Linked DNA regions of Homo sapiens: regions 2, 3, 4 and 5 are each linked to region 1. The links come from fine-mapping of genetic effects on gene expression. A gene starts in region 1. Each other region holds a variant in brackets. All regions are shown on one strand. Distances are between the middles of the regions.

The links. PIP is the estimated chance that this variant, and not a neighbour inherited with it, causes the effect. A credible set is the group of variants that fine-mapping cannot tell apart.
Region 2: its variant is the best candidate, but not a certain one, in a credible set for the expression of KLF5 in Th1 cells (Schmiedel 2018, PIP 0.62).
Region 3: its variant is the best candidate, but not a certain one, in a credible set for the expression of KLF5 in whole blood (TOPMed, PIP 0.70).
Region 4: its variant is the best candidate, but not a certain one, in a credible set for the expression of KLF5 in whole blood (INTERVAL, PIP 0.81).
Region 5: its variant is the best candidate, but not a certain one, in a credible set for the expression of KLF5 in whole blood (INTERVAL, PIP 0.89).

Annotation. Positions count from the first base shown.
Region 1 is chr13:73,055,476-73,061,676 of GRCh38, reverse strand. It overlaps KLF5 (KLF transcription factor 5), which reads right to left and starts at 2,672. Exons shown (of 4, transcript NM_001730.5): 1 at 2,089-2,672. The coding sequence starts at 2,349. RefSeq lists silencers at 1,909-1,998, 2,319-2,928.
Region 2 is chr13:73,492,653-73,498,853 of GRCh38, reverse strand. No RefSeq gene overlaps it. Among named protein-coding and RNA genes, the nearest start is that of LINC00392, 68 kb to the left of the region's middle. The variant G/TTG (reference allele first, on the strand shown) is at 2,982.
Region 3 is chr13:72,994,544-73,000,744 of GRCh38, reverse strand. PIBF1 (progesterone immunomodulatory binding factor 1) reads right to left here. Exons shown (of 18, transcript NM_006346.4): 17 at 1,750-1,923. Among named protein-coding and RNA genes, the nearest start is that of KLF5, 61 kb to the left of the region's middle. The variant T/C (reference allele first, on the strand shown) is at 2,803.
Region 4 is chr13:73,252,911-73,259,111 of GRCh38, reverse strand. No RefSeq gene overlaps it. Among named protein-coding and RNA genes, the nearest start is that of KLF5, 200 kb to the right of the region's middle. The variant C/T (reference allele first, on the strand shown) is at 2,900.
Region 5 is chr13:73,298,596-73,304,796 of GRCh38, reverse strand. No RefSeq gene overlaps it. Among named protein-coding and RNA genes, the nearest start is that of KLF5, 240 kb to the right of the region's middle. The variant A/T (reference allele first, on the strand shown) is at 3,322.

The DNA.
Region 1 (6,201 bases):
CTTATGAAACTCTGTGTAACTGGTAAAACTGCTCCCCCAATCACCCCCAAAAGTGAAAGACGCAAATCAAGAATAAAAAAGAAAGCAAACTTAAAACATTCCATTCTGATGCAATAACAAGGTACCATCACCCCTGTACAAGCAGGATTCCCTGCCCCATTACACAGTTAAGTTTGCAATTAGAGTACAGTATTGAAATGTTGCCAAACTACCTCAATTCTGTTTAAGTCACAAACATTAAAAAGCGTGGTTTTTTTTAATAGAAAAAACGATGCAAACCTTTAAAATATTGCACAGGTTTCTTTTCTTGACTAGATACTTCAAAAGTAATATAAAAATATTATTTGGCTATTTCAGTGTCTTTTCTTGTTTACAGTTCAATGAGAAATTAAACACAACGTTCTAAGCAAAACCTTGTATCCACTGAAACAAAACAATTTCACATTCAATATTTGATCTAAATGTTGATTTTCATCAGCAGATCCTGTAATTGGTTAATATGATAATGAAATGTTCCTATTCATATCCCTATCTAAAACAGATCTTTAATTACCTAGGGGAAAATCACTCCCTTGGTAGAGTGCTGCTAAGGAGCCCGTGGGTGGGGAGGCTGCTGTATCCCTAGCACAGTCATCAGCAAAACATTTATCATGTCCTTCTCAGTGGGCCAATGCTACATTCCCCCCTACTCTGTAAAAAGCTCAGTCATCCCTTATCTTCTTAGTGCCTCCAGAGCAGAAAATTGACAAACTGAAATAACCAAATACTTTTCAAACGGTGATCTCTTTTCTAGGCTATAAACCAGCTTGTAACAAGTCGCCTCAAGCCTTTTCCAGCTATCTTCTCTCCTAGTATAACTTAAGCCTACATTTTTTAACACTGAAAAGGAAATTTCGAAAGATAAGAAAACCAACTAGATGGAATGGCGCATATATTAGCTGTGGCACCTTAACAGGTAAATAAGACAGTCATTTTCTGCTACTACTTCATTTCAAATGCGTTTCATCTCGGACCTTGGTGTGGATGCGGACGGGGTTTCCCGGATAGACATGATTTAAAAATAAAAATTAACGCTCTCATCATGTGAGTCACATCTCTGACAAACGCCACTGCCCTCTCACAGCAAGACCCTGGCAGACCCCACGGAGTAGGCGCTGGGTAGCAAATATACGACACGCCAAAGAGCTACTAAATGAAGTGTCTTGAAATAAACTGAACTAAACCCTTTCGTGCACTGCGCTCCCGCGGCGGTTAGTGGTTTCTGATTTTAGCTCTTCCAGCTGTTTGCATGTGGGTATGTTTCCAATTTTTTTTTCCTTGGGACAGGCTAAAAGTCCCGGGAAGTTTTTTCTGGGCTATATGACTCCCTGCGTGGGCGAAAGAAACAGGCGGTTGCTCTAATTCGGCTGCTGGGCAAGTGTAAAAGCCAACTGCCAGCTTTCAACGCGGCTCCGGGAGGAAATTTACGTGCACACGAAGAAAACAACACCCCCGGTCTTTTTTTTTTTTTTTTTTTTTTAAGGAAAAATAAGCGCTCCGACACAACCTTAGCTTTCCTAACTCTCATTTTCCAAACGCGGCCCGCAATCGCTTCTAAAGCAGGTTGAGCCACCGGGTATGAAACCTTGGGGAACCTCTCCCCAGCACCCCAATTTGCGTTTCTACTTAACCCGAGACGATGGGGATGGGGGGGAGGGCTCCAATGCCTTGGCATTGGAGAGCGGTACAGGCGAAGGCGTAATTTAAGTAAAACTGAGCGTAAGGTACAAGGTTTCGTCCCTCAAGTGTAAGAAAAACAACTAAGGTGCGCGTGAGCACCCAGTTCCCTCCCTCTTACCTCTCCCAGGCCGACCCGCCGGGGCAGATTCCCCTCCATCCTTCCCACCCCCGGCCCCCCCCCCCATTTACTCTCAGCGAAACGCGGGGCCCCGGCCAGGCGTGCAGGGCGGGGCTGCCCACCCAGCACCGGCTCCGGTGCGCCCCGACGCACGCCCCAGCCTGGAGCGGCCCCTGTCGCCCGCGAGTCGCAGCAACGGGACACGCCCGAGCCCGGGAGTGCTGCGGTGGGAGGGGAGCGGCTCTTCCTACCTGGACCAGGTCCTCTGGAGGCAGCCGCGGGCCGGTGGCGGGCGGCTGGGCCGGCTGCGGGGCCTGCGCGGGCGCGGGCTGCGCCTGCGGGCGGTGGTGCGCGTGCTTCAGCTCCTCGCCGGGGAAGAGCGCCGCGTCGCGGGCCGGATTCGCGGCGCCCAGCACCGGCTTGAGCTGCGCGAACACCGGCTCGTCCTGCGGCGCCGGCGGCTGGGGCACGGGTCCCAGGCGGGCGCTCATGCTCAGCACCCTTGTAGCCATGGGCACTCGGGGGCGCAGCTCCAGGCGCGGGTCGGGCGCACTTCCCACCTCGCCCACGCTGGCTTGGGTCGGCGAGCTCAGCGCGGGGCTGCCGGCGGAGGAGGGGAGGTTTCGGGTGGACTCCTCAGACAGCGGCAGGCAGTTTTCGAAGGCGCGCACGAAAAGCAAAACTCTTCCGCTCTTCCACACGTAAACGCCAACGTCCTCCGGGCGGCCACTTTCTCCCGCCCCGCCCCACCGTGCTCTCAGGCTCTCCGGAGCCCGCTCCCGCCACCGCCGACCTCCGCGAGAGAACCGCGAGCGCACGTACCTGCCCCGCGACTACTGACACTTGACGCCCGCCTCTATTTCACCCAACTCCGGGGGGGCGGGGCCCGATCGCCTGATTGGCAGCGCCGCCGCGAATCCCGAGGCCCCGAGGCCGGCCAGGCCTGAGCGGCCAGCCTATGAGCAGGGAGAGAGGCAGCCAGGGCCCCGCCTCCGTCGGCCCGACCGCACCCCTCTCGGGCCACGAGCTTCGCGCGCAGGGCGGCCGCGCAGTTTGTACACAACTTCTCTGACAGATTGGGCTGGCGGAGCCGGGGGCGGAGGGAAGTAGCGGAGCGGGTGGAATCTGGGAAGAGGGGGAATTAGGGTGGAGACGCGGAGGGAGATCTCTTCGCACTGTTCTCTGCCAGGATTAGGAAGAAAAAGAGTATTGCACGTCTTAGGTGTTGTGCAAGGACCTGAAACTCAAAAGCTGAAACCCAGAAGGCAGCTAGGTAGGGGCGCTGAGGCTTTTAGAGATTTGTCTAATGAGTGTGTACTTTTAAATATCCAAAATGTACTTCTCTTTAGCAGAAAACTAGGGGCGGTGTGATAAACAAATTTAAAACAGCTCTTGTCCCTGTGTATCTTTAGCAGTGAGTGTATCCGTTTAACAAGGCAAATTCAGAATGCCTGAATAAAAGATTTGATGGCAAGCGTTTTTTCAGATCCTTGCATAAAAGCCTGGGTTTTTCCCACTCCTTCAGGATTTTAATTGCTAGACGTTTTCCCACACATTTCTACTTCCCATCCGTGTGTGGGGAGGAGGGCTTGGGCCATATGAATTTTGAAGTTTCTAATATTTAAGCCGTGTTGATTCTAGCCGAAGCATGGAATCTAATTTAAGCACGACTAGCTCAAACGTGTATTTAAATAGACATTACATCTTTGACTTATTTTTGCTAGCACTGTATGTTCAAAAAATGGACTTTAATATTTACAAAGCAGAAACCTAGCACATTTACCTCACATTGTGGCACCTTTTCCTACGAAGAGACAATCAAAAAGCCGCAAACATAGACACAGAGCAGCTCTGAAAACTGGGAATCCAAATTTGTTGGAAAGTAATAGCCAAATATATTACCATCCATTTACTATGTTGTTATAATGGGAGGGTGAATTTTTGCCAGCAATCACCTAAGGAAACCACTTCCCTTAATCCTTAATGTTCTTGTACATGATTTTATCTGGCTTATTGGGAGGACGGAACAATAAACTGCAATAAAAATGCCTGTGATATTACTACAAATGTACATATGTTGACACACAATATACCATTAGACAGTTTTACATATACCACAGCCTATTCATCACTTCAGAGTAAAACAGCTTTAAAAAAAAGTCTTGGATAAAAACGTTCACTTCAAAGAGTGTATCTATCAAAGGTATGGATCTCATTTTCAATGGGTAGAAAATTAATATGCACATAAAGAAATGTATTTATTATTAGAAAATATAAAATTATGCTGTAAACTGGGTTTTTCTCCTTTTCCTTCTCTTCCTGTTGACACATGATTCATTTTTATAGCTGTGATCACTGCCTTCAGAGAATGGCTGATGACTACTTTCATGTTATCAAAGTATTATTTAATAAGTGCTTTTGCAAGTTTTTCTCTAACCAAGCAGCCCCATGCTGTCCATCTTCATCTTTAAAAAGCTGTCCTGCTTTTCTCTAATGTAAAACCTATCATGTAATTAATTAGCTTAGAAACAGATTATAGAATTAGGATGGGATTTAATGTAACTCTTTTAAAAAATTGAGCTTTGAAAGATTTTTAGTTACTTAATTCTGATAACATCAAACCTAAATGTGATGTAGATAATTCTTAATAGAACTTTTGTGCTCTTGTAACTTTAAGCTAAATCTAACTTAGATTTAATACATTCGGTAGCTGTATCTTAATGTGCTTTTAAACCTATCTAGACCTTTCCTTTTGTCTTTTTACGAGAGCTTCAGTGGCCCGGTCTTTCAACCTAAGTTTTCACTGCAATAAAATCCATGTATTTTACTGGAAATGCTTCTATAATTTCACACCACTTTTTAACATGCTTTCATTTACAAAAGCTTTTTCATTGCAAAAAAAAAACCATACAACTAAGTTTTTAATATTTTTAGTCTTGTTAATTTTTCATATTTCCACTTTTCATAATATAGATATGAAGCTAGCGTTGGGGTTCTTATAGTAACTGAATATATTCCTTTTTGCTCCAATACAGTAGCAGGTTTTAAAATTCCATTTTGGGCATAAAGATTCATGAAATAGGGCTGCCACTTTTAAGTAATAGTTTCTCTGAAATGCCCTGCTCTGCAGTCTCACAGAAAATAACTAGCTTAGCACTGTACAATAGTACGGAAATTGGAAAGTAATCCTTTTCGGAGACATTTGCCATGTGATTCTGAACATATAAAGAACATGTTCGACCAAGTTTCCTTGCTGTTGCTTTTAACATAAATGCTACAGCTGCAAACCTGTTTCACCGACTTAGTAAAAAGGGTTAAAACTTGATAAATATTTTTCAAATGTTCCAGGTTCTACATTGGCTTGAAGCCAGACAGTGTGAATGGACAGATCCTCAATTACTTTGAACTTTCTAGTTCTTTGCATTCCTTCCCGCTTAGTAGTGCTGTACCATTAGGGAAGATAGGAGAAAACAAAAAACAAATGTCAGGTTTCAGAAATCAATTAGTGGCCTGGCAGTGGTGTGTTAACTGAACTGTGCCAAAACAGGGGATTCTGAGGGAATGAAATAAAAATGTTGAGTAGTCAAGTTAGGTAGGAGGGTAAGCATAGAAGCAGTGTGCATGCTTAAGTCCTTAGTCACTGGGCAACACAGATTTAGTCTTAGAATAAACCATAAGTGTCACTATCTTTACGGGAATAAATACGGATGAATATGCGGGGGCTGAACAGGCATTCAATGTTGGGGGAGGGGGTTTGAAGGAGGCAGTGGAAAAAAATAGATAAATAGCTTCTGAATGATGAGATGAGGGAAATATGAAGCTATCACTAGGGCAATGTTCACACAACGACACGGCAAAAGGAATATCTAAATTCAGTTGTTTGGCAAATCTAAATTCAGTTGTTTGGCAAAAACGTCACAGCTTGAAATTAAGAGGTATAGAGTATCACAGCCAACAAAACTGTATTCACTTTGAGTAGAAAAATATTCATAGAATATTTATTTCTGCCAAATCAGTATCAAATTGCCAAGTGATCTTGGGCCACAGAAAAAAGAACAAGAATAAAAATGAAAAATAAAGCTTTATACGGGAGCACACTCTTCTCTAGGGTAAGATTATTTAATTAAAGTGACTTTTTGGTAGTCATTGATTGCACACCCCTGTTAGAATCTGTATCAGTGAAAACTTAAAACTATTGTAATTATTGTCCTCTCCAACATTTCACATCTGTAGTCTTTGTATTTTTTCATTAATGGCAACCACCTAAAGCCACACATCAGAAAAAAAGTCATTAAGGAAATAGCCTGATAAATAGAAGCTTCAACTGAGATTAGTTGGAATTTAAAGCATTTTGACTCAAAAGA
Region 2 (6,201 bases), 440 kb before region 1:
AAACTAATTGTAAAAACAGAGTTTCAAAAAAAAAAAGAGGATGATGATAGACAATAAGAATATTTTATTGTGGACAGTAAGGGATCTGGTATGATTTTCACAGGGACCCTTCCTGTAGAGGGGCAGGAACAGAGCCCACTATTTGGAGTTTAAGAGAGATTTGTTGATGAGAAAAGTGGAGGCCACAAGACTATTTCAGAAAGTCTGAGAGACACTTTGGAGAACACTTGGGCATTGCCTAGTAAAGTTAAGATATACACACCTAGGGCTCGGCAGTTCCAAATGCAGAGCTATGAATACAGCAGTGTGGTTTCTTGCTCTGGGAAAGACGAAGATGAAACATCATTGAGGTCTCTTTCCCAAATAATAAGTATTTAAGGGTAATGTTGGTAATTTACTCTCAAGTAGTTCTGGAAGAAACAGTGCTCTATACCATACTTGCACAATTTCTAAAAGGCTGGGATTGTTCAAAAATAAAATAAAAATTCCTTAAAACTATTTTTAAATAAAAGAAGAAGTATAAAAAATGTATGACAACATCAATAAAAAGCTAAAGGCCACGTGTGGTGGTGCATGCCTATAGTTCCAACTACTCCGGAGGCTAAGGTGGGAGGATCACTTGAGCCCAGGCATTCAAGGTTAGAGCACGACCCTGTCTGTAAAAATAAAAATAGAAAGTTGGATACAAGGCAAGAATTTGAGTGGAGGCATTGTTAAAGGAATATGAAATTTTTATTATAATTTTTGTAGTTTTGTTTTTTAGGATCAGGAGAATGTTGATATGTTTGATGTGATAGGCAGACGAGAAGATCAAGTTAGAAAGAGAAATACAACTGGAACGCGTTCTAAGAAATGCTTCAATCCAGCATGCTAAATTTCATGGGATGTGGAAAGAAAGCAACTTGAAAAAGGTCAATTTTGCGTTCAGGTAGATTGCAAATACCTTAAAACCAAGAACATACCCTTTTACTTCAGAGTGGCTCTAGAATGTAGTAGCAGGTGGATTATAGGTCCGTCTTTATGGGAATACAGATAACAGTTGCTAGGATTTTTCAGCACCACTGTTCCCAATATTCCTGGATCTCAGGTCCTGTAGGAGACTGATTTGGCTTGCCTCCTGGATACAAACACACCGAGGCAGGTTTCGTGAGTGAGGTTATTGTTGTTACGTAAAAGCAATGGCATGATGTTTATGCTCACCCATGTGTCATTACCACTCGTTAGACCTGTGTTCCTATGAACAATTTCCACAGTAATCAGGGGCCTGTTACTACTTGTTATCTAAATAGGGCTCAGGAAGATGCTGTGGCTGTGGGATACAGTAGCCCAGAATATGTAAGAAGTGGTTGACACTGGCTACCAAGTCAGTTAGCCATTATGGGAAATGGAATGAGCAGCGATGCAGTGTGTTTAGGAAAAAATTATTCATTTTAGTCCATTATAACCTCCAAAACTACTGCGATTGAGTAAATAACGTCACTGCTGTCTCTGGCATACAACCATCAGTTGTAGAAGCTAAAGCTAGGAATAATATTATACTGTAATTATGGGTCTTTAATCATCCCAGAAAAAATTGGAGATGAAGATGGACATTAGACAAGGACAATCTCAAGATATTTCTTAAGAAAAAGACAACGTGTAGTGAAGATCGTGGGTTTTAGATTCAGACAGTCAGCCTGTTTAGTCTTAACTTTGTGGCCTTCATCGAGCTAGGGAACCTCATTTTCTTCTCTATACAATGGGGCTAACGGTACATTACAAGGTTTTTATAAAAATTAAAGATAATATATGTGGAATAACTATTATTATTTCTGCTTATTAATAGTGCCCCGTAGTTATTACTGCTTTTTGTATTTACCATATACAAACTACATTCTAATCCAGTGAGTCAATAACCAAATACTTACAAATATTTCACAATCATCAAAAATAAGCAAACACACAATTGAAGAAAGCATAAACACAGGCTTTAAAAGCCTTTACAGTGGTGGTATCTTTCTATAAATCTGCCATTTTTTAAGCTGTTTATTCCTTAACCTTTTGAAAAAAAAGTAAAACAAATTACGTCTTAGGAAGCCTACAATTCAATGAAAGATGGCCAGATAATAGAGTTGCATATAGCATCTATTATCTCCTCCTTCCTTAAGATATCAGAGCCTTTAAAAGGGATCCATTTAAACAGAAAATCTCAAGAGCAGTTTGTATTCAATGATGACAATATCCACACATGGTATTTTAAAATCTCTTTCCAAACAAGGGGATCCTACGCCCTAGCTTGCCTGGGACACTTCCAGTTTATTTCTGTTATTCTGGCTTACTTATTGATAGTCCTTTCCATCCCTTCACTTTCAAAGATCTCCTGGTTTGGATAATAAATACATTCATCCTACATATAGCATTTTACACTTAATTTTTCCTAGAGCAAAGATTATTTTAAATCTAGTAATTCCTAAGAAATTATAATCACAAATTACAAATTATAATTATAATCACAATTTTAATATGTCTTTGACTTGGAACCCAGGTTATATGCAATGCAGCAGAAGATACTGAATATTTTATCTGCAATCTGAATAAATTACACAGATTGGCATCTAAACTATGAAATGTTTTCACAGAAAATTTTCTAGTGGCATTTTATTAATGGATCATAATATAGCAAAAGAGAGAAAGGAAGAAAGATTTGCAAGACCGAAAGATGACCAAAGCAAATGGAAACCTGTGCTGGGCCACTGGTGGGCAGGGTCACTGGTGGGCAGTATCTGCTGGGCAGTCACTGCTGGGCGGGGTCACTGGCAGGCAGTCAGTGATGGGCAGGGTCACTGGTGGGCAGTCATGGATGGCCAGGGCAGGATGGATAACTCTGACATCAAGTGTGCTTATGCTGTGCCCTCGATGGTTTGGAAGCTCCTTCCAAATCTGATAAGGAAGATAAAAGGATCTTATTTTGATTGACTAGAAAATGATTTTTTTTTTTTTTT[G/TTG]AGATGGACTCTCACTCTGTTGCCCAGGCTGGACTGCAATGGTGCAATCTCGGCTCACTGCAACCTCCGCCTCCCGGGTTCAAATGATTTTCCTACCTCAGCCTTCTGAGTAGCTGGGATTACAGGCACCTGCCACTGCACCTGGCTAATTTTTGTATTTTTAGTAGAGACGGGGTTTCACCATGTTTGCCAGGCTGGTCTCGAACTCCTGACCTCAGGTGATCCGCCTGCCTCGGCCTCGCAAAGTGCTGAGATTACAGGAGTGAGCCACCGCGCCCAGCCGAAAATGATTTTTTTAATCTAAATATTATGCAATTTTTTTCAGAATTGCTGTCAGATTTTAACACCTAGCTCATTTTGAACATTTTGAATTCTGATGTCCTGTACCCTGGAGATGAGTTCGTTGCACAGAATTAAAGAATGAGGCCATACGGAAAATACCAATGTCTATACTGTTCTTCCTGTCTGTTTTATTATGTCTCTCCTCTCCTCTATTCTCCCTTCTTTTCCTCAATTAGCTACAACATTTATAATATTTTCAAGAAAGAGAGAAACTGTGATTATGCCTTCTGTTGGTTAAAAACTGAGATTTCTGGATTAATTGAAGCTTGTGAGGAAATTCAAATCTATTACTTTTTGTAACCCTAGTAAGTTATGAAAATAATACTTAAGATAATTTAAACATCATTAGTTTATGAAGTATAAATGTACTGATTTTTGTTATGATGACACTATACCACTTTAAATAGAACTGTAAGCATTGTGCTTCTCAATATTATTTATTTACTCGGCCTTACTTCTATTGAACTTATTACTCACAGGAAAAACAAAATGGATATCTTGGCATGGAATAAAGACTGATAGAATAGATGGCTTTCAATGCCAAATGCCAGAGCAAAGATTATTTTAAATATGATAATCCCTAAGAAATTATAGTCACAAATTACAAATTATAATTATAATCACAGTTACAAATCCATAATTGTGAATCACAGATTTTTTTGTCTTGCATAGACTTACCATCAGTAAATTTCCATGAGTAAAAATTTCTGTAAATTCTATATTTAAAAAATATTCAGCCTGAAGCCTTCTAGTAATCTGAAGACCCTTCTATTACTAATCTATTCACATGCACAAGGAGGCTTGTGCCTATTTGTGCATTTACTTTAAAAAACTAGTTTAGAAGAATTTCTGAGCATGGCACCCAAAGGCAGAAATCATTATGAAAAACATTTTAGATTTAACTACATGAGAATGAAATTTTCTGTAGAGCAAAACCCACTATACTATACACAAAATTAGAAACAGAATATGTAAAATACTTGATAGACAAAAGATTACTACAATTAATACATGAGTTCTCACAAATCAATTTTTAAAATCGTCTCCCATAGAAAAAATGGCAAAGACTTGAAAAGAGAATTTACATCATAACACAGTCAAATAGAAAATAAGATATTCTATCTCACTGACAAATAAATTCAAATTAACATGTAATAATGGGATACAGCACTTTCACCCAGTAGACTAAGAAAGGGTTTTTAGAGTGATCATGCCTACAACTGATGAAGATGATGGCAACAAGTCACTTTTGTGCATTTGTTGGTGACAGTCTAAGTCAGTAAAAATTTCCTATAAAGAAATACAGTAACATGTATTAAAAGCCTTAGTGGTGTACAAATCATTTGACATGGAAATTCCCCTTCTAAGAATTACTTCTTAGCAATGGATTGGAAAAGAGCACAGGATATGATAAAGATTTTCACCACAGGGATTGACTACTTGGTGAAAATTGGGAAGAGTCCAACTGTCAATCAATACTGAGTTAATTAAATACAAATGGTACATTTATATATGGAATGTTCTTCATTTGGTAAGAATGCAAATTTATTTTTATTGACATACAAAAAGGCCAATATATATGTAACTGAAAAAGCTAGTCACAGAAAGAATATTTATAGTAGGATCCCATTTTTTAAAAGAATACAAACCAAAATTATGTCAACATTATTTTTCAGTGGTGAGATTACAAAAATTTTTACTTTCTCCTTTATATTTGTCTAATTTTCTAAATTATTATAATCAGGATGAAAACAATAAAGGAATTTTCCTGCTCCCCTTCATTTTCCCATTATAAAGGAGAAGATGTCATGGTAAGTAATGTCTGGCCATTTTCGGTAGGTGGATGTGAAATTTAATCCACAGTTCAAAAACCAGCCTTATTTACATTCTAATGAAAATCTAAATGGAAAATGTGCTCTGTACTTGAAACTTCAAGACATTGACAAAGTCAGTGGGAAATCCCTACATCCAGTGGCTGTGTGGACCTCTGCAGACAGAAAGATCACTTGGAATGAAGGTTCACATATGTCATGGCATAAAGAGGCTTTGCAGAATGGCAGTCTAGTTGAGGGGGAGATTTCTTAGTATCATGATGTTGCTATTCAGAAGGTGGGCAGCTCTTAGTTTGCTTTTCAGCCCTCTTTCATCTCACTCACCAGCACAAAGTGAGCCAGTTCTTGGGAACCCAGAGAAAGCATAGTTGGAGGAAACTGGGAGAGGAGGAAATGGTGACAACCACAAGAAAACCTTCCAGGCCACAGCTTGCAGAACAATGCCACTATGCCCATAAATTTAGTGCTAATTTTATCTGTGGAAAATCACAAAAATGAGCCTGACTGCCTTACCTCCTGCTCCACATACAAATATTTAAGTCAAAATTTAACCCAGGGAGAAAAACAAAATGAGCCAAATAAATACATGTAGCTAGCTAAGTCCTTCACAAAGGGGCCTTCAGTGTTTCTACCCAGCATAAGAACATAACTCCTGGCTCTTCGACTGAAATGATTCATGAAAAAAAAAAAGCTAAATATGTTTTCTTAAGAAGAAATTCAATGTGTCAGAAAAATATGATTGTCCTAATCCAGTTTAACTTTTAACCTCAATAAATAAGCAAGAGAAGTTTGCAACCTGAGCCTTTCTTCCCAGTGAATGTTTCTTTTCCTTCTTGCTCCTGAAGAGTTTTTCCTTTTTATCCTGGGGACACAGGAATACAATAATTCATCAAAATTTCATCCCTGCAGGAATCTGGACACCCCCAAAAAATGAGCTAGTAAAGGAAATCATGAAACCTACCTTCACAAATATTTTTTTCTAAAGGTAGGCACCCAACTGGGTACAGCCCAGAGGGAGAGCAAAGGATGAACTCGGGGCCCTCTAT
Region 3 (6,201 bases), 61 kb after region 1:
GAAGGTCAGGGTCAGAAGGAATAGTGCCACTGCCTGGAGCAGAGTAGGATCAGAAAGGCAGATCAGAGAGTGCTGACAGGCTTTAAGTATTCAGCTGTATCTTGTGGTTTTCATCTGACCCTATTTCCCATTAATGTGTATGTATTCAATCTGCTTTCTTCCTATAGATTATAATAGACACAGCATAGTGTCTGCCACAATCTCTGCCCACTCTCTGAGCAAAACCTGCCTAGCCATAGCCCTTAATAAACAGTCCTCGGCAGCTGTATTTGGAACTGTGTGACTCCTGCTCACCATTAAGGGCAGCCATTCTGTAGGCTGGGTAATAAGCTTAGGAAGTCTTGCCAAAAAGGGGTATCACCCAACAAGAATTAGCTATGCCAATTAGATTGTTAGTCTTGGAAAATACAGGGAGAACTACATTATAAGAGAGTAGATGCAGAAAGGATGTACAGAAACCTGTTTCAAGACAAAGGGCTGTGAGCAAGTTAATGAGGAAGTGGAAAACATGAGTAAGCAGAAACTAGAGGAGAAACAAAGAGAAGCTGATGTACTACAGAGGAAAAGATGCATGGACTCAGCCGCCTTGTGTCCAGGCTAGTCAACTGAGCCATCCTGTTTTCTCCCGCCTGTCAGCTTAGTCTACATTACTGCCACACGTATCCTTAAAATAATTGTCCCTTATTTTATTTTATTTTATTTTTTGAGGCAGAGTTTCACTCTCTCGCCAAGGTGGTGAATGCAGTGGTGCCATCGCACCGACAATTCTCCTGCCTGTCTCCCAAGTAGCTGGGACTACAGGCGTGTGCCACCACACCCGGGTAATTTTTGTATTTTTAGTAGGGATAGGGTTTCACCATGTTGGCCAGCCTGGTCTTGAACTCCTGACCTCAGGTGATCCTCCCACTTTGGCCTCCCAAAGTGCTGGGATTAGAGGTGTGAGCCACCATGTCTGCCCAATTGTCTCTTATTTGATCTAAACTGCAACTTTCATTTTTTTAAAAAGGGAGGTTGAATTATATAATCACTAAAAAATCTCTTTCATCCTATTAATCTTCAGTAGCATTATCTGCATGTATAATAAAATGACTGAGATCAGAAGTTCTCATATTTGACTATTATATTCAACTTGGGAGTTAAAAAAATTAAGATTCTGGGGACTCACTGAATCAGAATATCAGAGAAAATCTTTCTGGTTTTGAGTCTCTATGTTTAGCAGATAAAAATCATGTTTCTCCTGAGAAATGAAAGCATGATTGAGAAACCATTTGAAGTAAAATGGAATATTTAATAATGTTACTCCTATTTTAATTCTCTTGCCTTTTAATCTTGATTCTTATTATTTGTTAAAATATATAGTTTTCAATATTTCCTAATTTATTTTCTCTATTTTTAAAAATTGGCACATAATAACTGTACATATTTTTGGTATTTTACCTTTTAATCCAAATTTTTCTTATTTCTTTTTCTTTAATTTCTGTGCACATATATTTTTAGCTAACAATGCATTTCAGTTTATGTTAATTGATTTCACACTTTATGAGGAATTACAGTAAAATATACTATCATCTATAAGATAGGTAATATACACATTTAGAAAATGGATTAATGCAAATCCTTCAAGGTCTTTTCATGAAACATATTTGTGGAATCTACTCATTTCATAAATGTAAAAGGAAAAAATTAACTAAAATACATTTAGTAAGAATCAGGAATATTAAAATTATGAGTTTTAAAAATTGTACTTACAAAGAGTGTTGGTTTAGGTGTAAATATATTGTCTTCATGCTCTTTAGGCACATTCAAAGTCTTTGATTTCTGATTTTCTGTCACATGTTTTGGTTCTGTTTTAGTGAGAAGTAAGCTGTTCTCAGAATGTTTACTATGCATCTTAACGAGAATCTGTTTCATTGCTGCCAATTCCTGTTGATATATGAAAACAGAAGAAAGTAGCAAGAGTGATTTTAGCAAGCAGACTAATAATGATTAATATTAAAATATTTTTAAGTAGAAGAAACAATTATACTACACACATAAGTTGTGAAAATAAAATAGTAATTAGAATCATGCACATGAATCTTTTGATCATTAATACTCATTTAATATAACTGACAATTACAACATTCTATAGTCTAGTGGTTTCCACGTTTTTCTGCACACTGAAATCACCTGTGGAGCTTCAAATATTGCCAGTGATGACTGTGTCCCAACCCCAGAGACTGTGAGATAATTGATGTGGTGTGGCCTGGGCTTTGGAATTTTTTTTTTTTTTTAGATAGGATCTCACTGTCACCCAGGCTGGAGTGCAGTGGTGTGGTCTCGGCTCACTGCAGCCTCTACCTCCTGGGCTCAAGCCATCCTCCTGCCTCAGTGCCTGAGTAGCTGGGACTACAGGCGCATGCCACCACGCCCAGCTAATTTTTTTGTATTTTGGAATTTTTGAAGATCTCAAGTGATTCTAATAGACAGACAAATTTGGGAACCACTGGCATAGCTACCTTCCACTGTAGATGCTCCACATATATTCGCTGAGTAGACTATTTAAGCATTTAACTTTTTCTCTTCTTCTTTTAAACTGTCGCATTTCCTTTGAATTCTTATATAAAGATGGTAGAGAAAAAGAATCCAATCTTGGCTACTAGTCAGCAGTTAAACAGTAAGTTTAATACAGATTCAGGATTTCTTTAGCTGTATTATCCCTTATCCTTTTACAAATGATAAGTGGGGTTGGCTTCAGTTGCCCTTTGAACTAAGAATTAATTGTGATGAACTTTTTGAAGAGATCAAAAATTTCACCCGTTC[T/C]TGCTCCCAAGTGTATTTGTCTTTCATATCCATAGACAAATCTTTAGTACATAACACTAGTGGGTATTTATGATTAATTACTAAATTGATACATCATATACAAGTATATGGAGAGATGACAGGCTAAACTCTTCTTAATCTTTATTTATCAGAACAGAACAGTGGTAGGCTATGTAACAGGTAATTTTTTCCTATTATCTTATTGTATCTTCATGCCAAAACACGAAAGTTATGGTGATAGAACAATGTTCTGCTCTCTTCTACTAATCTGTTTATAGACACCAGCTCTGTGTCACAGCAAGTTCCTACAGGCCTTTCTCTTCTGGCTGTCATTAGTTCTATTTAGAACCATCTAACTTGAGTGAGTATTTTAAAGCAGTGTTGCTGAGTTTAAGCCATATAACCTTAATAGATTTTAGGGTTGCGAGACGTGTCAGAAGAAATGGTGTCAGAATCCTTTCTCCTTTCTGCAGTAGTGGGCCTGGCTTGGCCAATGTACATGAGAATGCATATACTTGCAGACATTGCCAATCTGATATATGATTATCTGGGCCATTTGGGGACTCTTTTTGCTTTCAAGATTATGTTGTTTCATTTATATGCTCCACTATGGTGAAGTATATAATTATTGATTTGATGTCAAATGGGTATGGTGTTATGGTAGATTTCAGCTCCTGTTCTACTTACCAAGATAAGTAGAAGGGAAAGCCTATGAAAAGAAAAACTTTCTATCTGAAAGAACATCTCTTTATTAGCCACAACTTTTCTATCTTTGGCATGAAGATAAAATAAGAGCAAAAATCCCCTCCAAAACAATCTAGCACTATTCTACAGATAAATAAGGTAAAGGGGGGTTTAGTGGTCAGGAGATTAGAAGGGAAATTCACATCTTTGCTTTATCCTAAGATCACCCCAGTTTGGGGTGTTGTCACAGTACCACTTTCGTTAATGTGACTGTACAAAAAATATTAGCAGTTTCTGAAATCCAGGCAAAGAACACTTTAAGATCAGCAAAATTCTGTAAAATTCTTATTAGGATAATACAGCTACAGTGGGTACCCAAATAACATTTAGAACACATTTTCAATTTTATTATGTTTGGCTTATATAATGATCCAACTTATATCGATGGTAAATTTGAACCAAGAAAATTCCACTTCAATTTTTTTTTTTTTAGAGACAGGGTCTTGCTCTGTTGTCCATGCTAGAGTGCTATGGTGTGATCACAGTTCATTCAAACCATCCTACCGCCTCAGCCTCCTGAGTAGCTAGGACTACAGGGGCATTCCCCCACACCCAGCTAATTTTTAAATTTTTGGTAGAGATGAGGTCTTACTATGTTGCTCAGGCTGGTCTCTCACTCCTGGCCTTAAGTGATTCTCCAGCCTTGGCCTCCCAAAGTGCTGGGATTATAGGCATGAGCCACTGCACCTGGCTAAGCACATGTAGTGGTACTATTTTAGTATAAAGCTATTAGCAAACGACACATCTATTCTTGACATTATTATTGTTTAAACTTAGGCTGCCTAATCTAGTTCAATGAGCTTTAGTTTTATAATTGATAAAATGTAAGCTTCTGTTACCTTTTAGGATTTTTGCCAGTCTGATAAGGGTTTGTGTATGTTTATTTTGCATTCCTTTTACAGTGAAGTTGAGCAGTTTTTTTTTTTTTTTAATATATTGAAGGTTTTTTTTCAGTTGATTGCCTTGGCCCATTTTTCTACTGAGTGGTCATTTTCTTATACATTTCAAGGAGCTCTTTATATGTTAGGGAAATTAGCCCTTTGTCTTTAATATGAGTGGCAATTTTTCCAGTTTACCTCTTACTTGACTTTGTTTATGACCCCCCCCCCCCGCTTTTTTTTTTTTGTTATGAAGAACATTTGATTGTGATGTAGCAGAATATGTCAATCTTTTCTTCTGTGGTCTTCTCCATGTTTTTTTCCTATATTTTCTTAAGTTACTTTTGTGGTTTTTCTTTTCTTTTTTTTTTTGAGATGGAGTCTCGCTCTGTCATCCAGGCTGGAGTGCAGTGGCAAGATCTCGGCTCACTGCAATCTCCGCCTCCCAGGTTCAAGCAATTCTCTGCCTCAGCCTCCAGAGTAGCTAGGATTACAAGCACCCACAACCACGCTCAGCTAATTTTTGTATTTTTAATAGAGACGGGGTTTCACCATCTTGGCCAGGCTGGTCTTGAAGTCCTGACCTCGTGATCCACTCGCCTCGGCCTCCCAAAGTGCTGGGATTACAGGCGTGAGTCACTGTGCCCAGCCTCTTTTCTTTTTCAAACATATAGATCTTTGATTGGTTTAAAGTTTATCCTGGCTTATGGTAAAACATATGAATACAACATCTGTCCCCTCAAGATGGCTCTCCTATAACAACATCATGTACTGAAGAGACCATTTTTTCCCCCACTGATGCCATCTTTATAATGTACTAAACTGCTGTAAGTATATTATTTATTTATGGACTTTAAAACTCTGTTTCTACAGTCTGTCTATTTATGCACCCATGTCGCACTGTTTTAATGTTTTACTCTTTAATGAATGATGTATTTTTCTGGCTGTATTCTTGGAGATAGGCGTGGGATCATGCTGAAGGGAAAACAAAATTAGAAAGAACTTTTTTTTTTTTTTTTTGAGACGGAGTCTCATTCTGTCGCCCAGGTTGGAGTGCAGTGGTGTGATCTCGGCTCACTGCAACCTCTGCCTCCCAGGTTCAAGCAATTCTCTGCTTCAGTCTCCCAAGTAGCTGGGATTACAGGTGCCCACTACCATGCCCGGCTAATTTTTTGTTATTTTTAGTAGAGACGGGGTTTCACCATCTTGGCCAGGCTGGTCTTGAACTCCTGACCTCATGATTCACCCACCTCAGCCTCCCAAAATGCTGGGATTACAGGTGTGAGCCACCGCACCTGTCCGCAAGAACCTCTTTATTATATTAAGTGTTCACAGCCATGAAAGTATTTGAATATGTCTTACACCGACCTTTTTGACATAAATTGTCCTATCCTAGTTGATGCTACTATTACAATGAAATGATCATGATTCATGAGATCCCAATTCACAAACTGACAAAGCAAACAGGAAACAATCCAACATAACAGGCAATAATTAGAAAACATTTTTGTCACTACGAAGAGAAATCCTTTGGTAAGATGAAATCATTTTGAAGCCCTCTGCTTTGCTTCTAACCTGGTTCGGTTCTTATCCTGTGTCTGGCTTCTGGGTATTGGCTTCATCTCGTATTTCAGATTCCGCTCTCATTGTTTGCATTTGAGTTTGGCATCTCATCTCCCTGCCTTTTGATTCTACTTTCCTCTTCTATAACTATCATTTTTCTGATTGGTCAGTGGGTTTATTTGCAGCATTGCCTCATTATTTGTAAATATTGTTT
Region 4 (6,201 bases), 200 kb before region 1:
CTAAATGTCGCATACACTGTTTGGGGATGAGTGTGGCTACTGAATGCTGGCCAGCTGCCCCACCTGTTCCAGAACTTTCCTTTCTCACTCTTGCCAAATGTGTGTCCCATCTGCTATGTTAAAACTGAAATCAAAGATCAAAACAAGTATTAAACAGTGTATTTGGGGGCTCACTGCCTGAAAGTTAAATAACATCCCTCCTCTCCCTCTATCTTCTGTCATTCCCTGACCTCATGGGAGTGCAACAGAGTGGTCGCTGGTCACGCAGGACACCAGTGTTCTTACATTATTTGGTGTGCTTGACTTGCTTCCCTAGTCAGTGGGTAGTTGTTTCTTTTCATTTTCTGTCTTCCTTGCTGCCAAACTGTGTGGCCCTTAGTAAAAACCTGTTTTGTCAGAAGAAATCAGAAATATGACTCTGAAAAATTAAGGGACTTATCCAAGTTCACACAACTTACGATGGAGTGGGAATTTGACCTCAGCTTTTCCGCTTCTTGGCTTCCTTCCACTGTGTGATGCTTCCTGTGTGGTCATCAGCTCTCCCCAGCTATCTTGTGAGCTCCTAACTGTTCTGACATAGGTTCCTGGAGACGAGTCTCACGTTTTTTTTTATTTACCCTACCATGTCTTTTGCAGAAAACAAAATCAACAGATATGGGAAGTGTTGGGGAGAAAAGCATAGAAAGGTAAATACAAGTGCCAGCTCAAGACACAAACCTAAAACTAGCAGGTTTCCTAAGCACATGAATGTCACTTCCTATTTCTCCTGTAATAATCCAAGGGAAAACTAGAGTTTTGCTGTTTTACCAACAAACAGCACAGTTGATGGTGAGTGTCAGCACACCAGCCACCTAGCAGAGGAGAAGCCCACTGGGTCTGCCTTCCACCCAGACCCAGACCAAGACCCTCTGGATCAGATGAGGCCTCCAGGCAAGGACGGACCACAGAAATCAATAGAACACTTTCAAGACCTGTTCAAGCTTCAGACCCAGTGTCAACATTCATGAAGAGTAAGGAGGACCTGTCATCAGCCATAGTTTGTCATTTCTGAATCGAAGGCAGGGTTGGCCAACGTAGAGGAAACTGGCTGCCCTGGCATGCATTTGGTGCCCAAGGCACACATAAAATTGAGGAGGTTTTTATTTGTTTGTTTTGGGTTTTTTTTTTTTAGACGGGATCTCACTCTGTCACCCAGGCTGGAGTGCACTGGCACTATCTCGGCTCACTGCAAGCTCTGGCTCACTGCAATCCCAGCACTTGGGAGGCTGAGGCGGGTGGATCTCCTGAGGTCGGCGGTTGAAGACCAGCCTGGCCAACATGGTGAAACTCCATCTCTAAAAACACAAAAATTAGCCAGACCTGGTGGCACATGCCTGTAATCCCATCTACTCGGGAGGCTGATGCACGAGAATCGCTTGAACCCAGGAGGGGGAGGTTACAGTGAGTCAAGATCGCACCACTGCACTCCAGCCTGGGCGACAGAGAGAGACTCTGTTTCAATGTAAAAAAAAAAAAAAAGAAGAAGAAGAAAAGAAAAAATGAAAGTGTGTTATATAAAATAATAGTAATCTGGAACTAAAATTTCAAATTGTTTCAACAATATATGGAAATTGATGAGGTGTGTTAAATTTCTCATTTAGCTCAGGGAAAATTCATACTTCTTCATTCTTAATGTTGACTAAAAACTAGGTTTACATATATATTTTAAGTTGACCCTAACCATAAAAGATAGAAATGGAATGTATAACTTCAAATCACCAGAGGGGAAAAAAAGGAACAAAGTTTGATGCAACAATGTGGTAAAACTTTTTGAAATAATACATGACAAACAATTTTTGTAAAAGCTGATCTGATATTTTGGCTCTCACTTATATACATTTGTATTAAATTTGACAACATATATAGCTTTCATCATTTTTGTGGGGATTTTTTATGTAAGATAAGGCATAATATTAAAATATTTTCAAATGAAATGAGACAAGGCATTTAAAACAGTAAGACTATCAAAAGGTTTCTTCAAAGAGACTATGGCTTCCTTGTATTTAAATTCATGTAATTTGGAAGGAGAGATGAGAGGTGAGTTGACACAGAGGACTGACAACAGATGCTAGAGTTCTTCAAAGGGGGAAAAAGAGTCTTGGGAATATACCTACATGAAACACTGGGTGTAAACTGAGGTCTTAAAATTATGCCTTGATGGAAGGCAGGACTTACCTAGAGAACTGAATTCTCAGTATAAGAAATAACAAGATTTGGCCAGGTACAGTGGCTCACACCTGTAATCCCAACATTTTGGGAAGCTGAGGCAGGTGGATCATTTGAGGTCAGGAGTTGGAGACCAACCTGGTCAAACTGGTGAAACCCTGTCTCTACTAAAAAATTAGCCGGGTGTTCTGGCACGTCCACGTAATCCTAGCTACTCGGGAGGCTGCATGAGAATCGCTTGAACCCAGGAGGCGGAGGTTGCAGTGAGCTAAGATCACACCACAGCACTCTATCCTGAGTGACAGAGCGAGATTTCCTCTCAGGAAATGAAAGGAAAGGAAACTAAAGGAGAGGAGACGGGAGGGGAGGGGAGGGGAGGGGAGGGGAGGGGACCAGAGGGAAAATGTCACTAAAAGGGGTGGGGATTGAGGAATAGAGAATAAAGGAGTATTACAAACCAGGCAGCTTGCTGAAAAAAGTAGACAGTGAGAAAGAAGCTCTTAAGGACCAAAAATTTTCGAGAGCTGCAATATTATCTACTTCTTCTTCTTCTTCTTTTTTTTTTTTTGAGATGGAGTCTTGCTCTGTCACTCAGGCTGGAGTGCAGTGGCACTGTTTCGGCTCACTGCAAGCTCCGCCTTCCAGGTTCAAGTGATTCTCATGCCTCAGCCTCCTGAGTAGCTGAGACTACAGG[C/T]GCCTGCCACCACGCCAGGCTAATTTTTGTATTTTTAGTAGAGGCAGGATTTTGCCCTGTTGACCAGGCTGGTCTCAAACTCCTGACCTCAGGTGATCTGTCTGCCTCGGCCTCCCAAGGTGCTGGGACTACAGGTGTGAGCCAACGTGCCCAGCCATTTTTTACTTTATTTTAATGATGCTATAATTTAAACTTCTTTTAGTTAAACAATTCCATTGCCCCAAAACTTCAGTGAATGTCTGCCATACACACAGCCTGAGAATGTGGACAGGAAGGACTTGGATGATGTTCTGTGTGGGGTGCACAGTGCATAAAAGGAACAGCACACAGATGTGAGTAAACCATGAACTGCACTAATCCACAGAAGAAGGACCCCAGGGCCAGAAGAAGCCAGGAGAAATGGAGGTGCCCTGTCCCCTCAATGACTTGAGACATTTGGAAAGACTGAGTCTCTCACTGCACATGGGACAAGGTATTTAAGCCAAATATCAAAAGACCAGTTGGCCCTGAGTGACATTTTGGATACAGATAATGTATATTCTCTCATCAAGACAACTGGAGGTCACACTTGGAAATCCAAAACTTGAACTTTAGAGGTATTCCATAACAATAGCAAAATTGATATTAGCAAATAAAATATAATGGCTCAAAACACATAATAAATGAAAAAAAGAAATTATTTAAAAAGTGTATATGAGTTTATATAACAAAATACACTTATAAAGAATAGCAAAGAATCATATATTTCTAAATAACTATAAAGTACTAAGTCCTCAACTCAGAAAAGCAAAAGGATATTAATGCTAAAATGTTCAAGTTATGCTCAGAAATAAAAAGCCTTTCTAATTAAGAAATAAAATATCTCCTTTTTGAAATAGGCCTGAAACAGGCACTGTAAATCTAAAATATAGATGAGAACAACTTAAACATTAGATGAAAAGAAAAGAAAATCATGTACAGGTTATACCTGATAAAATAGTGGCTCATTTTTAATTTCCTGCTAAAGGAAATGAATGAGTCAAAAGAATAGAAATTTCTGGTTAATGAGAGATCAAAGCTGAATGTGATCCAACTAGCAAAAGAAGAAAAGAAAACATTGAGAAAGATCATGAACGATAGATTCTGAAATCAGAACAGGTCTTTTAGAAAGCCTTGAGCCACGATGTGATAAGGACAAAATAGAAAAGGAAGAAGGAAGAGAGAATAATCCAGGGAATCCTTCCTGATGACTCAGGTAATGATCTGTAACCATTTCAAGACTCCAAATCCTCATGAGCAACAGCCTCTCTGGAATAGCTGAAGGGAGAAGATTCTCCCACCTCCACAAACTACAAGCTCCAGAGGATCTCCCTTTCCATCAACATGGTGAATCCCTGTATAACTCCATCTAGCCTGTGAGCCCCAGGAGGCTGGAGAGGAAAGCCATTCCCTTCTCGAGTGGCAAACTATCAGCTTCAGAGTGTGGTCATCCATGTTCACCCTTGCTTCTGACACCACTGACTGACTGTTTTATATGTGTTGAGTTTGTCTGTTGAGGAAATGTGTTCAAGCCCATGATTTTTCTATACCACTGCATCAAATTCAGTATGAAACATAACATGCATCATCAACAAATACTAAGAGACAGCTTTTTAAATGTTTGGAATATTTTTCCTAATTATTTCCTCCCACTTGGGATCAGAAAACTAAACAAAGTCATTTGTTTTCTCTTGGACATGTTTAAAGACGTCCACTCATCCCTCCACCTTTCTGGGCCTTGAGTCCTCATCTATATAGTAAGGAAACTTGACTAGGGACCTCTGACGTTATCCTCCAGCTCCAGCCTTCTGGGACTGCCTCAGCCTAAGCACACAATGGCATCTTTCCCAAGACATGTTCCTCCAATTCCCTATTTCCAGTCAGAAGCAAGAGAGGAGTGGGAGAGAGGCCTGGGTAGGTAACACAGCAGAGAATTTGTACCTTGGAGAATCAGGAGTCAGCAGAGTTCTCATCTTGACCTCCCCTCCTTCTTTCTTTCTTCCTGCTTTGCTCACCTCTCTGAATTGGCATTTACACATTTGATCCTCTCTGGGTCTAGTTCCTTTTCATTTTTTGGTTAGTAGCTCCAATAGAGGCCTGCAATAAACCAAGGAAAGGCTCATTGAAAGAGAAACAGATTCCCTTAGATGTACCATGAGGGATGGCTACATTTGGGGCATTCCAACTCAACTAAATGACCCACCTGGAAAAGAAACACTTCCACATTTGACCAGACACCCTCCCAAAATGTGTGTGTGTTTTTTTTTAGATGGACTTTTGCTCTTGTTGCCCAGACTGGAGCACAATGGCATGATCTCAGCTCACTGCAACCTCCACCTCCAAGGTTCAAACTAGTCTCCTGCCTCAGCCTCCCAAGTATCTGGGATTATAGTCATGTGCCACCACACCTGGCTAGTTTTGTAGTTTTAGTAGAGATGGGGTTTCACCATGTTGATCAGGCTGGTCTTGAACTCCTGATCTCAGGTGATCCACCTGCCTCGCCCTCCTGAAGTGCTGAGATTACAGGCGTGAACCACCGCGCCCAGCCCCAAAACGTCTTAAAGACTTAAAAAGACAGTTCTGCCAGCTCACTATTTACTGATCAGTGTCCATGTGCATTTCCAGTGGTCTGTCATTAAACACACTGGATCAAAAATCCCCATCCCCTGCCACTGCCAGCTCAAGCCAGCCTACAATTATTTCCAGTAGCTGGCTGTGACTTAAAACTCTGGTTAGAAGAAAGGCGAGACGTCACTTTAATGCAATTCTTGTGTTATCTGTGGAATTCGGTTTTTCATGCATACTCCTATCTTCCATCATCAAAGCATCCCTTAAAGGCCCATTTGGTTCTTTATCAAGACCAACACTAAGATTTACCTAGAAAATTTTCAGGTTAGCTTTGAGACTCACACATTCAGAAGACCTGAGGCTTGAAAATGACAGGACTGTAGGTGATACTAGAAGTGAGACAGGTTTCAAGCCATTCAGGTCAATACCGTACAATACTGTGGTGGTGACACCCTAGTTAGTTGCCGTGAAGCCATTCCAAGAGGCCATTAATTGATCCCAATGGACACCTAATGGCCTCTTAAAATAGAAGACTGTACTTAAGTGGAGATAGGAACATGCTAATTACATAACTCTTTTATTCAAGGTAGTCTTTGGATTTGGCCTCTAATTCTGATTCCTTCCCTGCCATCTCTACTAGAAAGTTGTAAGAAGTGAATCTCCATTCCACGTTATAAAATGATTTTAGGTTGATACACAGGGACATTTTATCATTT
Region 5 (6,201 bases), 240 kb before region 1:
TCAAAAGATCTAAAAGGATGTTGCTAACACCAGATGTACTAGCAGGCACAGTTCTAACCATAGGATTCTTGTTGGGAAACTGTAGAGCAGTTCCCATCACATTTAGCCCATATCAGAGACTAAACACCTTCCCCTTCTGATAACGTGTGTATGAGATGCCTCCTTTCTGAGGTCTGAGTCTCTGTTTGAGTCATCTTTGCGTCTCTTTTCTCTTTTCTTCCAATAATCTTCCTCCCTGGTGTCTAGTACAAAGTTTTGCCTGCAATAAGCACTAAATAAATATCTACCAAGAGCATTAAAATGTAAAAATCAGAATTTTCTGGAATACCCACAATCAAATGTGCTTATCAGAAAAAGAAATCACACAGATGTTTTTGTAACAAGCAGAACCCAAATTAGTCTTTCACGATTTCTGCTGATCATATTAGAATCACCATTTCTGCTGATCCTATTAGAATCACCTCTACTTAAAAAAAAAAAAAAGCCTCAAAATATCACTGGCTTTTTTCCACATAAGCAATATTTAAACAAGAAACAAGCTTGGAAGGGGAATAAGAGGCTTTAGCAGTAGATGAATCTTTATCACAAACTATTTCCTCCACGTGAATCGTCCTGCTGGCATTCCCTGGGAATTAACGTTTGCTGCTGCTTGTTACCTGAAGTGTTGCATGAATAAGAAGTATGCATGATAGAGCTTCATGTATTCACTCAGCCCACAGGAAACGTGAGCATGCAGCATCCTCTGATTCAGCAGAGAAGTGCCAGGTCACCCACCTACTACAGAGGGACACAGTCGCTGACTCAGAAAACTCATGCTCATCACAGGAAAAAGAAGCAAGTAAGCACCAAATAAGCAAGGCCTAAATTAATCACTCTCCGTTCAATATATCTGGGTATATTTGAGTCACAACTTTCTGACAAGCCTATGAGATTTTTTAGAAAAAAGATGCAGGTAACTACGAATGCTGGCAAAGCAAAGCGTGTGAACGTCAGAGTAGTTGAAAGCATTTCTGCTTTAGCAAGTTATTTCTTTCCGTATCATCTGGTCAACCTCTGAAACCAGAGTGATATTCTCTCTTCATGTCCCTTTAATCTTTTTGTGGAGTGGTTAAAAAAAAGAAGAAGGAGGAGGAGCTAGGCATGGTGGCTCACGCCTGTAATCCTAACATTTTGGGAGACCAAGGCAGGAGGATCGCTTGAGCCCAGAAGTTTGAGATGAGCCTGGGCAACATAGCAAGACCCTATCTCTTAAAAAAAAATTAGCCAAGTATGGTGGTGCACACCTGTAGTCTCAGATACTTGGGAGGCTGAGGTGGGGGAACAGCTTGAGCCCAGGAGGCTAAGACTGCAGTGAGCTGTGATTGTGCCACTGCACTCCAGCCTGGGTGACAGAGCAAGGCTCTATGTCAAAAATAAAAATAAAAAATAAAAGGAGAAGGAGGAAGAGGAGAATTGTAGTTGTGGTAATTGGAATAGGAAGAAGGAGGAGAATGAGAACAAGGAGGAGAAATTAATATACCTTCCTTTTGCCAAAATAAAGGAGTTTTTGTGAAGCTCTTTGTATTATTATTGCATATTGATATTCCATATATAGACATACACTCATGCCCATTTTTAACATTTTTGTTGCATTAAAATATGGCTCCAAGTGTAGTCTGTCTGTAGATGAACTACAGAAGCTATCTAAATGCTGAAAGAACACCATCACCATGGATGCTGTTCAGTGTGGTGGTTAAGAAGTCTCACTTCAGAATTAGATACTCCTAGGTGACTTCTAACAGAACCATCACCACTTACTAGATACACGAATTTAGCCTTAAAATGCTCAGTTTCCTCATTTGTTCATCAGAACTAATAACGTCTATCTTATTGAATGTATTAAAGGTCAGAAGAGATAATGTCTGTAAAAAGATTGGCAAGGATTTAAGTAACCAATAAATGATAGCCATTATTATCACTATGAAAACTGTATGAGTGTTGACTATGACTTCAGATAAGCAAGATTAGCAAAATTCTGTACACTTAGAAACAGATTATTCTATCTTTCTTTTCTTCCACCTTTCTAGCCTGTCAAAGCCAAGCTCTGGAAAACTGAATGGCCTGCAAGAGCTGTTTAGTGTGTATAATTGCTTTCATTATTGTAATTATTTACAGTACTGGTAGCTTCACACTTGCATTACTAATAAACCTTTCAAAGTGTACTGGCATTTGGGTTGGTTATGAAGGTTCAAAACCTTACAAGTTTCCATAGTGATCCCAAAATATTCAGAAACCGTAAACTACTTTGAAAAATAAAAAACATCATAGAGAAGTACACATTAGTATCCTGAAAAAAAGAACATTCTTTGCCACAACAGTAACATCAATTCAGAAATGTTTCCTTAGACCTGGAAGCAACTTAATGTAATTTGAAGCCAGGGGATAACTGGTGTTTAGAGAGTTCCAGAATAGGATGTGGTCAAGACCCCCTTCCCTGCCCGTATGGAGATCTTACAATAATATTTAACTGAGCCCTTGCTATACATCTACCCCTAATCTAAGTGCTTTACATTTATTTGATCCTCTTAGCCACTCCATGAAATAAGTACTATCTTTATGTTCATTTTATGGATGAGAAAACTGAGGCACAGAAAGATTGATTTGTTTGCCCAAGGTTACACAGCTAGTAAGTGGATCAGTCAGTATTCAAGCCTGGTAGTGTTAAACACTATGTTCCTGGGATGTTTTATCATCTATAACCACTGGTGAAAGTTGTAAATGTTAAGGACAACTTGGAATTGCCATACTATATTGTTAAAAACCTACAGTTACTGTGAATCACTAGGCAAAAATATACTAATGTTGGGAAGAAAACCTTTTCCTCTACCACTTGGGTCCAGTGCTTGGGGGCCTGCAAATTAACTGGAAATAGATTAACAGGAGAAAAGACAAGGTTTATTTACATGTGCATGTGGGAGTTGCTCAGCAATGAGTAACTCACAGAATAATGCAGAGTAAAGATTTTTGTATATCAACTTAAGGATGGTTTTGGCCAGGCCCAGTGGCTCATGCCTGTAATCTCAGCACTTTGGGAGGCCAAGGTGGGTGGATCACCTGAGGTCAGGAGTTTGAGACCAGCCTGTCCAACATGGTGAAACCCTGTCTCTACTAAAAATACAAAAACATTAGCTGGGCATGGTGGCGGGCTCTGTCATCCCAGCGACTCAGGAGGCTGAGGCAGGAGAATCACTTGAACCAAGGAGGCAGAAGTTGCAGTCAGCCGAGATCACGCCATTGCACTCCAGCCTGGGTGACAAGAGTGAAACTCCATCTCAAAAAAAA[A/T]AAAATAATAATAATAAAATAATCTTTATACCAACTGTGAGAGTCTGAGTGAATTCCCCCACTAATAGAGTCATTTGTTAGGTGGGGAACAAGGATAGCGCAGATACATTGCATTTAAACTAAATTCAAATTAGCTTCAAATAATCTGCACCAGTAATTAGTTCCTAGTTACTGTGCTTGAAAGTCATTTTTAGATCAAACATTCTCTGTCTACAAGCAATAGCATAGTAGTGTACTTCTCATTAAAGGTAGTGCTTGGCCCATAGAAGATGTTAAATAAATATTTATCGAATGAGCAAAAGAATCATTGTAAATATTCAACTGTCTTATGCTGATATAAATACATGGCAGGTTTATATATATTGGTTGCTATCACTTATTTGAAATATTAATTTGTTTTATTTGTAAATAAACATCATAACTATTATAGTGAGAATTACAACTTGAAGTTTATTAAGTAACTATGTTCTTACATATTGGATCAGAGATTAGTATTAGCCAACCATTTTCAAACACCCATAGTTAAAATCTCACTGGCATGGTTAATGATAAGCTACAACAAGACCGGCAGTGTATGCTGGGCCTTGGACAAACTTCAGAGTAGATGAACTCCACTGTATTAGTCAGGGATCTTCAGAGAAACAGGACTGAGATAGGTAGGTAGGTAGGTAGATAGATATATAAATAGAGAAACAGATACAGAACTGAGATAGAGAGGTAGGTAGGTAGGTAAATAGCTAGATGACAGATAGATAGATAGATAGATAGATAGATAGATAGATAGATAGAGATTTATTACAAGGTATTGACTCATATAATTAAGGAAGCTGAGAAGTCCCACAATCCTCCCCAATTAAGGAAGGAAGAGGAAAGCCAGTGGTGTGGTTTGAAGGCCTGAGAGCCAGAGAGCTGATAGTGTCAATTCCAGTCTGAGTCTGAAGGCCTGAAAACCAGGAACACTGATGGCAGGAAAAATCAATGTCCCTGTTCAAGCAGTGAGACAAAGGGAGACAACCTTCCTTTGCCTTTTGTTCTCTTCAGGCCTTTAATGAATTGGATGATGCCCATCTACCTTGGGAAGGGCCATCAGCCTTATTCAATCCACAAATTCAAATGCTAATTTCTTCCAGAAACACCATCAGAGAAATAGTTTCATCAGACATCTGGGTACCACATAGCCTGGGCAAGTTGATACGTAAAATTAACCACTGTATCCACCAAACCATGCTCATTCACACCTCAGTGTCCTTAGGCCCTCTCCTCAATTTTTTTTCTCCTCCCTACCCTGACATTATTTATTCAACGAACAGCAAGAGTGGAAACTAGTACCACCCCTAGAAGCATATATTTTAGCAGACTTCAAAACTTAACCTAGAAGAAGGGAGCTCCTTCAAAAGTATTTTATTCATTCTTACTCCAACTCGACAAATATTTGTTAAGCAGTTACCATGGCACAGATATCACTCCAGATGCTAGGAATACAGCCAGCCCTCTGTATCTGTGGGTTCTGCATTTGTGGATTCAACCAACCACAGACCAAAAATATTTATTTTAATTGGATGGTTGTGTCTGTACTGAACATATACTGAACATACTTAGACTTTTTTTCTTGTCATTATTCCCTAAACAATACAATATAACCACTATTTATGTAGCATTTACATTGTATTTGGTGTTATAAGTAATCTAGAGGTGATTTAAAGCATATGGGAGGATGTGCACAGGTTATATACAAATACGACACCATTTTATATCAGGGACTTGAGCCTTCACAGATTTTGGTATCCAACAGTGTCTTAGAACCAATTCCCCTTGGATACCTACAAATGACTGCACATTGCAGAGCATAAAACTGACACACACACAAATCCCTGCCCTTACGGAGTTTACATTCTAGTGTGCATTTCAGCCAATTGTCAGTCATCTGAAAAATACTTTACAGTACAAAGAAACATCAAAATGTCCAGAAATAACTGAAAACTATGAATCTACAGAGCATCTTTGGGAGAATGTAAATCTAGACTTTGAAAGCCAACCAAATGGGGTTCAAATCCTACCTTACCACCTACTGGGTTTGAGACTGTCTTAGGCAAACTGCTGATTTTTCTCTTCAGTAAAAACAGTACCACTCCTTTAGCATGCAATTATTGAAATAATTGAAAGAATAATGTGTATATATATTCTGAGGGCATAATTTCAGCCTCCTAAGGTTGAATTGCAGTCTGTGTAATACCATTCTGTGAATAAAAATAATCACTAAAGATTGTAGTATGATTTACTACTTATATGGTATGCTTATATTTATTATAATTTTTGTTGGAATGTCTGATCCAGTATTTTGAAATCTCCTTTAGCCTCAGAAAATGAAAGATTTTTTTAATTCACCGGATTCATTTGCAAAAATCAACTGAGCACTTAACAAGTACACTAGGCACTAGATACACAAGGATTTAAATAAAACAGAAATAGAACCAGTTCTCCTGAGCTTACTCTGTAATTGGTGACAAAAACGATAAATAAGTAAACATTTAAATAAACTTATAATTGCAAATTGTAATTTTATCATCAAGTTCAAAAACAGCCCTCCTCACTGGCCCTTGTCCTCCCTTTTGGTCTCCTTTGAAGCTTTTCTCTAACAATATCTCCTCTGTTATTTCATGAACCTGTCTGTTTCTACTTAATCCTTTCTCTCAGTATAAAAGCAGACTGAAGCCTCTCATCCTGAAGCAACAGCAATGGCACTGTCCCAGGATCATGTGCCCTCTGCTAATGGATAATGCCTTATTTTCTCCTTATCTTTTGCAGCCAAACTTCATGGTCTGCACTTCTGTTAGCATGTGTTATCATAGGCCGTCTCCTACTCCTTGCAGGTAATGCCAC